Linked DNA regions of Homo sapiens: regions 2 and 3 are each linked to region 1. The links come from fine-mapping of genetic effects on gene expression. A gene starts in region 1. Each other region holds a variant in brackets. All regions are shown on one strand. Distances are from middle to middle. Region 1 holds the start of MATK (megakaryocyte-associated tyrosine kinase). Region 2 overlaps ZFR2 (zinc finger RNA binding protein 2). Region 3 overlaps ZFR2 (zinc finger RNA binding protein 2).

Evidence for each region.
Region 2: its variant is fine-mapped to the expression of MATK in whole blood (TOPMed, PIP 0.96).
Region 3: its variant is fine-mapped to the expression of MATK in whole blood (INTERVAL, PIP 0.97).

Annotation. Positions count from the first base shown.
Region 1 is chr19:3,784,916-3,787,753 of GRCh38, reverse strand. MATK (megakaryocyte-associated tyrosine kinase) reads left to right here and starts at 1,373. Exons shown (of 14, transcript NM_139355.3): 1 at 1,373-1,585; 2 at 2,468-2,690. The coding sequence starts at 2,619. RefSeq lists silencers at 216-414, 2,289-2,583 and enhancers at 2,289-2,583, 1,945-2,838.
Region 2 is chr19:3,821,027-3,823,526 of GRCh38, reverse strand. It overlaps ZFR2 (zinc finger RNA binding protein 2), which reads left to right. Exons shown (of 19, transcript NM_015174.2): 8 at 124-281; 9 at 1,327-1,446; 10 at 2,048-2,187. Among named protein-coding and RNA genes, the nearest start is that of MATK, 36 kb to the right of the region's middle. RefSeq lists an enhancer at 1,568-1,727. The variant G/C (reference allele first, on the strand shown) is at 1,517.
Region 3 is chr19:3,831,242-3,833,741 of GRCh38, reverse strand. ZFR2 (zinc finger RNA binding protein 2) reads left to right here. Exons shown (of 19, transcript NM_015174.2): 3 at 1-78; 4 at 1,864-2,082; 5 at 2,186-2,439. Among named protein-coding and RNA genes, the nearest start is that of ZFR2, 37 kb to the left of the region's middle. RefSeq lists an enhancer at 1,900-2,489. The variant A/C (reference allele first, on the strand shown) is at 1,102.

The sequences.
Region 1 (2,838 bases):
TCATTGCCCTCCTAAGATGAACTTCATCTTTGTTTCAGAGGACTCATCCCTTAGAAAGGATGATAAGGTGCAAGGCGTGGTGGCTCACGCCTGTAATCCCAGCACTTTGGGAGGCCGAAATGGGAGGATCGCTTGATCCCAGGAGTCCAAGACCAGCCTGGGCAACAAAGTGAGACTTCATCTCAAAAAAATAAAAATAAAAATACAAAAGTTAGCAGGGCGTGGTGGCACGCACCTGTAATCCCAGCTACTCAGGAGGGTGAGGAAGGAGAATTGCTTGAACCCGGGAGGTGGAGGTTGCAGTGAGCCAAGATAGCGCCACTGCACTCCAGCCCGGGTAACAGAGCAAGACTCCATCTCAAAAAAAAAAAAAGGCAAAGTGGCCAATTCTTGGATTCCTCCCAGGACAGGGAACTCACCCCCTCCTGAGGCTACCCCTTCTATGGCTCTATGAAAATTTGGGAAAAAAAAAATTACCCTGTGGTCCCAGCTACACGGGAGGCTGAGGCGGGAGGCTGGCTTGAGCCCAGGTGGTCAAGGCTGTAGTGAGCTATGATCACGCCACTGCACTCCAGCCCAGGGGATAGAGTGAGACCCTGTCTCAAAAAATAAATGAATAAAAATAAAGATAAAGGCCTGCATTGGGTGAAAGCAGATTGGGCGTTTTGGTCACCCCAACCACAAAGCCATCGCTGGGGGCCAGGGCCCTGTCCACCAAGACCAAGTGAGATCAAACTGTTCTGTGAGGTGAAAGCGGGTGGGGCCCCCACCCTCCATATGGGGGAGGAAATCCCGGCTGGAAAAGGGGTACCTCCTACCTACGGGCAGAGCCAGGTCCCTCCAACTCCCAGGCCCCCCTTTTACCCTCCAAGGAGGGCAGCTCTAAGAAGTTTGCATCCGGATGATTACAGTTCCCGATGATTCTGTTACTCCAATTTTCCCTTAATGTTGATGATTATGATAATGATATTGATAGCGGCTGACATTTTGAAAGCTTTTTTTTTGTCAACCACCAATAGCCCTCTGAGACGGTGGGTGCTCAAATGGGCGACACTGAGGGAGTTGGAATTGCAGAGTACGAAGTGTCCTCTGGGAGTCCGGGCTTGGCGCCTTGCTTATCTCCCCGGACGGGCAGCTCACTCTCCCTCACCCCCGGTCCCCGCCGCGCGCACTGGCGGCGCCCGTTCCACGCTCCAAGAACCCCGCTTCCCAGGGTGGGTGGGGGGTGCACGCCCGACAGGGCCAGGTCAGGGCCAGGCGTGGAGCCCGCGTGCGCCCCGGGACCCCGCCCGGGGCGCGCGGGAGGCGCCGGGGGCCGCGGAGGCGGGGCGGGGAGGGGCCGGCGGCGGCGGCGGCGCGCGGAGGAGACCGCAGTGCGGCCGGCGCTAGGACCCGCGGGGGCCTCCCAGGCCGCGGCGCCTCCCGCTTTCCCCCACTCCCCGACCCTTCTTCGCCCCCAAAATGAGGAAACGGAGCAACTCGCTCCAAGTTGTGCAGCCGGGACCGCCTCGGGGTGTGCAGCCGGCTCGCGGAGGCCCTCCTGGGGGCGGGCGCGGGGCGCGGCTCGGGGGCGCCCCCTGAGCAGGTGAGCACGTCGGCGGGGAGACGTGGAGAGACCCCGAGGCCGGGGTGGGGGGAAACCCCGAGGGCTCTAGGCGGGGGTGGGCCCGGGACGTGCGCAGGAAGGGCCGGTGTGTGCGCGAGTGTGCGCGTCCCGGGCGCGCAGCGGGTGCGCGGCTGGGGCGGAGGGTGCTCAGAGGCGATCGGACCCCGCGTGGTGGTGGCTGGGGTTTCCTGGGTGCGGGTGTGCGCGGCTACGAGCCCCGGGCGTGTGTACCCGCGCGTCCACGTGGAGGGCTGTGCGCGTGTGGCCGAAAAGCGTGTGCGCGGCCCTGCGTAGCGCCCTGCGTGCCCGAGTGGCCCGGCGCTGGCGCCCAGGTGTTCCAGTGTGGGGCGGCTGTGTGTGTGCCGGGGGCGGGGGACAGGTGCGCACGTTCCCAGGTGTGGAGCGCTTGTGCGCGCGGATGCGCGGGGACGTGTGCGCACACCTGTTTCCACGTGGACGTGGTCCTTTGCTTGTCTGCGCGCAGCTGTGTCCGAGCCCTGTGTGTTTCTGTGCGTGTGCATGCATCCGTATGCGTGTGAGTACACGTGGGACTGGAGGATTTCATGGGAGGCGCATCTTGGAGGGGCCGAGACTCACCCCCCAGCACCGCCCACTTCCCAGCCACTAGCGGTCGGGGAGATGGGGGAGGCAGGGAGGCTCCCCCACCCCTGCAGCAATGAGTGACTTTGTGTGTCTGTCCTGGGTTTGGGGGGGGATCAGAGAGGCTCAGCGGGTGGCCGGAGGAGCCCAGCAGGGCTACAGGACCCGCCCCTGCCCCCAGCTCCACCCCACGGTCAGAGATTCTTGGGAATGACCTTGACTCATCCCTATTTCCCCACCCTGCCCCTGCCTACCAACCAGAAAACAGGAAGAACCAGGCTCGGTCCAGTGGCACCCAGCTCCCTACCTCCTGTGCCAGCCGACTGGCCTGTGGCAGGCCATTCCCAGCGTCCCCGACTGTGACCACTTGCTCAGTGTGCCTCTCACCTGCCTCAGTTTCCCTCTGGGGGCGATGGCGGGGCGAGGCTCTCTGGTTTCCTGGCGGGCATTTCACGGCTGTGATTCTGCTGAGGAACTTCCCCGGGTAAAGATCACTTCCCCACAGGGGCTTGGGGAGCCAGTTCTGGGTCCCATCCAGGATGCCTCTGGGGAGGCTCTCTCTGCCTGCCCAGCCATCGCCCCCACCTGACCTGGGCTGGAAGTGGTAGGAACTGGACCGTGGGTCCCAGCCC
Region 2 (2,500 bases), 36 kb before region 1:
GGAGGGAGGGGGATGGCACAGCCTGCAGTCTGGGTGGCTCTCCACCCCATGCCGCCTGGCGGGTCTGCAGCTGCAGTGCTTTCTCCTGGAACAGGGTATAAGTGACATGGTTTTTCCCCTCAGGGCCTCCTGAGCCACAGGCAGCAGGCTGCAGACCCCAGTGGGGGAAACCAGCCCAACCTAAATTAGAGGGTCCCGGAGCACCTACCCAAGGAGGCTCAAAGGAAGCTCCCGCGGGCTGCTCTGATGCGCAGCCGGTGGGCCCGGAATATGTGGAGGAGGTAAGTCGAGGCTGTCAAGTCCTGGTGCCCCGGTCAGGGAAGGACCTTCCCATGGATCAGGCTTCGAGACCTCACCCGGCTTCTCCCAGCGAGATTTACAGACCCATCCCCGTTCCTGAGCTGCACAGGCCAGACCTCCATGGACCAAAACCCCGTGCAGACCCGCTTGACACTTTGGGTGCCGGATTTTGGTATCAGCAGGAAATGAATATGGCCCCGTGAGGGCCAGAGACAGGCCGAGGCATTCCCAACAGGGGACCCTGCGGAGCCGTCTGTCTGGAAGGTGGAAGGGATCTGGGCAGTAGAAAGCTCCCCGGGAGGTTGGAAGCCCTTCTGTCTAGCCCCTTTCCTGGGCCTGCGGGACCCTGGGACCTGCCAAGGTCAGGCTGGTGAGCAGTGGAGCCGAGCTCCTGGGCCAGGTCTGCCAGCTCCCAGGCCAGCGGCAGTTCAGACCCCGGTTGGCCTTGTGCGTGCCAAAGAGGCAGGGCTGGGTTTCCTCTGCCTTGCCTGTAGGCCTGGGATTCTTTTAAGAGAAAGGGTCTTGCTGTGTCACCGAGGCTGGAGCACAGTGGTGCCATCATGGCTCACTGCAACCTCAAACTTCTGGGCTCAATCAATCCTCCCACCTCAGTCTCCTGAGTAGCTGGGACTACAGGCATGAGCCACCACTCCCAGCTAATTTTTGTATTTTTTATTTTTTTTGTAGAGATGGGGGTCTCGCTATGTTGACCAGGCTGGTCTTGAACTCTTGGGCTCAAGCAATCCTCCAGCCTCCCATGGTGGCGTGTGCCTGTGGTCCCAGCTACTCGGGAGGCTGAGGTGGGAGGATCGCTTGAGCCCAGGAGTTTGAGGCTGCAGTGAGCCAAGACCGAGCCACTGTACTCCACTCCAGCTTGGGTGACACAGCAAGACGCTGTCTCTAAAAAGACATACATAAATAAAATGAGCAGCAAGGAGGAAGGCTCCGCCGCGACCTGGCAGCGGTAGCATCTCACATCCCACCCCGCCTCGTGCCTGGTGCGCGTGCGGCTGTTCTGTGTCTCAGGTGTTCAGCGACGAAGGGCGAGTGCTTCGCTTCCACTGCAAGCTGTGCGAGTGCAGTTTCAACGACCTTAACGCGAAGGACCTGCACGTGAGGGGGCGGCGGCACCGGCTGCAGTACCGGGTGCGTCCAGCAGGGGGAGCTCCGACACCCGTCCGGGCTGTGCTAGGGCCCGGCGGGCGCTGGGAGGCCT[G/C]TGGTCGGGCCTCTTCCGCGCGTGTGATCCGACGAACTTAAGAGGGAGGGGTGATTTTCTGGGTTTTCAACGTCTTGGTCCTCGTCTCAAAAGTGTATCTTCGGCCGGGCGCGGTGTCTCACGTCTATCATCCCAGCACTTTGGGAGGCCAAGTTGGGTGGATCATTTGAGGTCAGGAGTTCGAGACCAGCCTGGCCAACATAGTGAAATCTTTACTAAAAATACAAAAATTAGCCAGGTGTGGTGGTGCGCACCTGTAATCCCAGCTACTCGGGAGGCTGAGGCAGGAGAATCGCTTGAACCCGGGAGGCGGAGGTTGCAGTGAGCCGAGGTCACACCATTGCACTCCAGCCTGGGAGACAAGAGCAAGACTCTGTCTCGAAAAAAAAAAAAAAAAAAAAAAAAAGGCTTTGGGAGATTTTTCAGCCCAACAGTTCTAGTCTCTGGGCCTCTCCCTGCACCCCAAGATCCTCCTGGCATCCCTGTCTAAAGCAAGGTCCCTACTCTCAGAGCCTTGCCTGTCCTTTCCAGAAGAAAGTGAACCCGGACCTTCCCATTGCCACGGAGCCCAGCAGCCGGGCTCGGAAGGTCCTGGAGGAGCGCATGAGGAAGCAGCGGCACCTGGCGGAGGAGCGGCTGGAGCAGCTGCGGCGCTGGCACGCGGAGAGGAGGTGCCCGGCTGCGGGTCTTGGCAAGGGGGCCTGGTGAGGGAGGGCAGGTCCAGCGTGGAACCTAGACGCCCACTGCTGCAGATTACGGAGCTCCTCCGTGTGAGCTCTCGAGCAGTGGGGGGAGACGGGTGCCCGGGCAGTGGGCACGTCCTGGTGTGGGAGCGTGAGAGGGTTCCAGAGCAGACGGGCAAGGGCACAGTGGCGTGCGGACCTGACACGTGGGCTCCAGGGCCTCCGTAGACGCAGGGACACTGCCGGCCAACTCGCTGGACCACACGGCTGCAGAGGTGCCTTGTGACCTGTGTCCCCCGAC
Region 3 (2,500 bases), 46 kb before region 1:
GCTATGAGGACAGGCCGTACTTCCAGTCTGCTGCCCTCCAGTCTGGGCGCATGACAGCCGCAGACTCCGGCCAGCCAGGTGAGCCATCTGCAGGGTCGGGGCTGGGAACGAGGAGACGCTCCCCGCAGCACAGGGAAACCTTGGGAAACTTACTTTTTTTTTTTTTTAGACAGAGTCTCGCTCTGTTGCCCAGGCTGGAGTGCAGTGGTGCGATCTCGGCTCACTGCAAGCTTCGCCTCCCAGGTTAAAGCCATTCTCCTGCCTCAGCCTCCCGAGTAGCTGGGACTACAAGTGCCTGCAACCACGCCCGGCTAATTTTTTGTATTTTTAGTAGAGACGGGGTTTCACAGTATTAGCCAGGATGGTCTCCATCTCCTGACCTCGTGATCCGCCCGCCTTGGCCTCCCAAAGTGCTGCGATTACAGGCGTGAGCCACCATGCCCGGCCTGAAAGTTACATCTTTTCTTTTCTTTTCTTTTTTTTTTTTTTTTTTGAGACGGAGTCTCACTCTGTTGCCCAGGCTGGAGTGCAGTGGTGCGATCTCAGCTCACTGCACCCTCTGCCTCCCAGGTTCAAACAATCCTCCTGCCTCAGCCTCCCAAGTAGCTGGGACTGCAGGCACGCGCCACCATGCCTGGCTAATTTTTTTCTATTTTTAGTAGAAACGGGGTTTCACTATGTTAGCCAGGCTGGTCTTGAACTCCTGACATCAGGTGATCCACCTGCCTCGGCCTCCCAAAGTGCTGGGATTACAGGCGTGAGCCACTGCACCCCGTGAAAGTTACATGTTAACCATCCTAGAGGCCGGGCACGGTGGCTCACGCCTGTAATCCCAACACTTTGGGAGGCCCGAGGTGGGAGAATTGCTTGAACCTAGGAGTTCGAGACCAGCCTGGGCAACATAGTAAGACCCCCGTCTCTACAAAAAATGCAAAAAAATTAGCCAGGCATGGTGGTGTGCACCTGTAGTCCCAGCTACCCAGGAGGCTGAGGTAGGAGGTTCGCCTGAGCCCAGGAACTGAGCTGCAGTGAGCTGTGATCGCACCACTGCACTCCAGCCTGGGCAGCAGAGCAAGACCCTGTCTCTAAAAAATAAAAAAT[A/C]AAAAAAAAAAACAAAATAAAGGCCGGGTGCAGCAGCTCACGCCTGTAATCCCAGCACTTTGCGAGGCAGAGGCGGGTGGATCACAAGGTCAAGCGATCGAGACCATCCTGGCCAACATGGTGAAACCCCATCTCTACTAAAAATAGAAAAATTAGCCGGGCAGGGTGGCGCATGCTTGTAATCCCAGCTATTCGGGAGGCTGAGGCAGGAGAATCACTTGAACCTGGAAGGTGGAGGTTGCAGTGAGCCGAGATCATGCCACTGCATTCCAACCTGGTGACAAAGCAAGACTCCGACTCAAAAAAAAAAAAATAATAATAATGATAATAAAAACATCCTAGATTTGCAGGTGAGCCTCAGAGCTGGCTGCTCAGATGGGCCCTGGGATCTCTGCCAGGTGTGGGCCTATGAATGAAGGAAAGTGAGGACTGAAAATGCAGCTAACATTTTTTCCAAGGAAGCTTTCCCGGGGTGGCAGGAGGTGAGCTCTGTGGGTGATGGAGCTGGAGATGCAGAGGAGCTTGTCTAGGGCACCCACAGCCCTCCTCCCCCATGGCAGGAGAGAGAAGCCGGGCTCTGGAAAGGAGAGGTGGGCACAAGGTAACCTGCGAGTCGCTGCCAGCACCTGGCCCAAGGCTCTGGCCTCTGGTCCTGGCTTAAGCATCTAGCGTGTTCCAGCCAGTTGAGTCCAGGGCCCATCTGCAGGTGAGGGACAGTGGGGTGGGGGTTGGCTCTGCAGAGGGCCTGTCCCTGTCCCCTAGGGACCCAAGAAGCCTGCGGGCAGCCCAGCCCCCATGGCAGTCACAGCCACGCTCAGCCCCCACAGCAGGCGCCCATAGTGGAGTCCGGACAGCCAGCGAGCACCTTGTCCTCGGGATACACCTACCCCACGGCGACAGGCGTCCAGCCCGAGTCGTCAGCTTCCATCGTGACCTCCTACCCCCCGCCCTCCTACAACCCCACCTGCACCGCCTACACGGGTAAGACCAGCGTTCCTTGCCCAGGTGGTCTGCCCGTCGGTCCCCACTTCAACTCAGTGGAATCAGCATCTCCCCCCGACTCATTGTTTTCTCTGCTGCTCAGCACCAAGCTACCCGAACTATGACGCGTCGGTGTACTCCGCTGCCAGCCCTTTCTATCCTCCAGCGCAGCCCCCGCCTCCCCCGGGACCCCCGCAGCAGCTGCCCCCGCCGCCCGCGCCTGCAGGCTCAGGAAGCAGCCCCAGGGCCGACTCGAAGCCACCGCTTCCCAGCAAGCTGCCGAGACCCAAGGCGGGGCCCAGGCAGCTCCAGCTTCACTACTGCGACATCTGCAAGATCAGCTGCGCTGGCCCCCAGGTCAGTCGCCCTCCTGCCATGGGCAGGCCCCAGGGACCTCTCTGTCCCCAACGTCTGAACC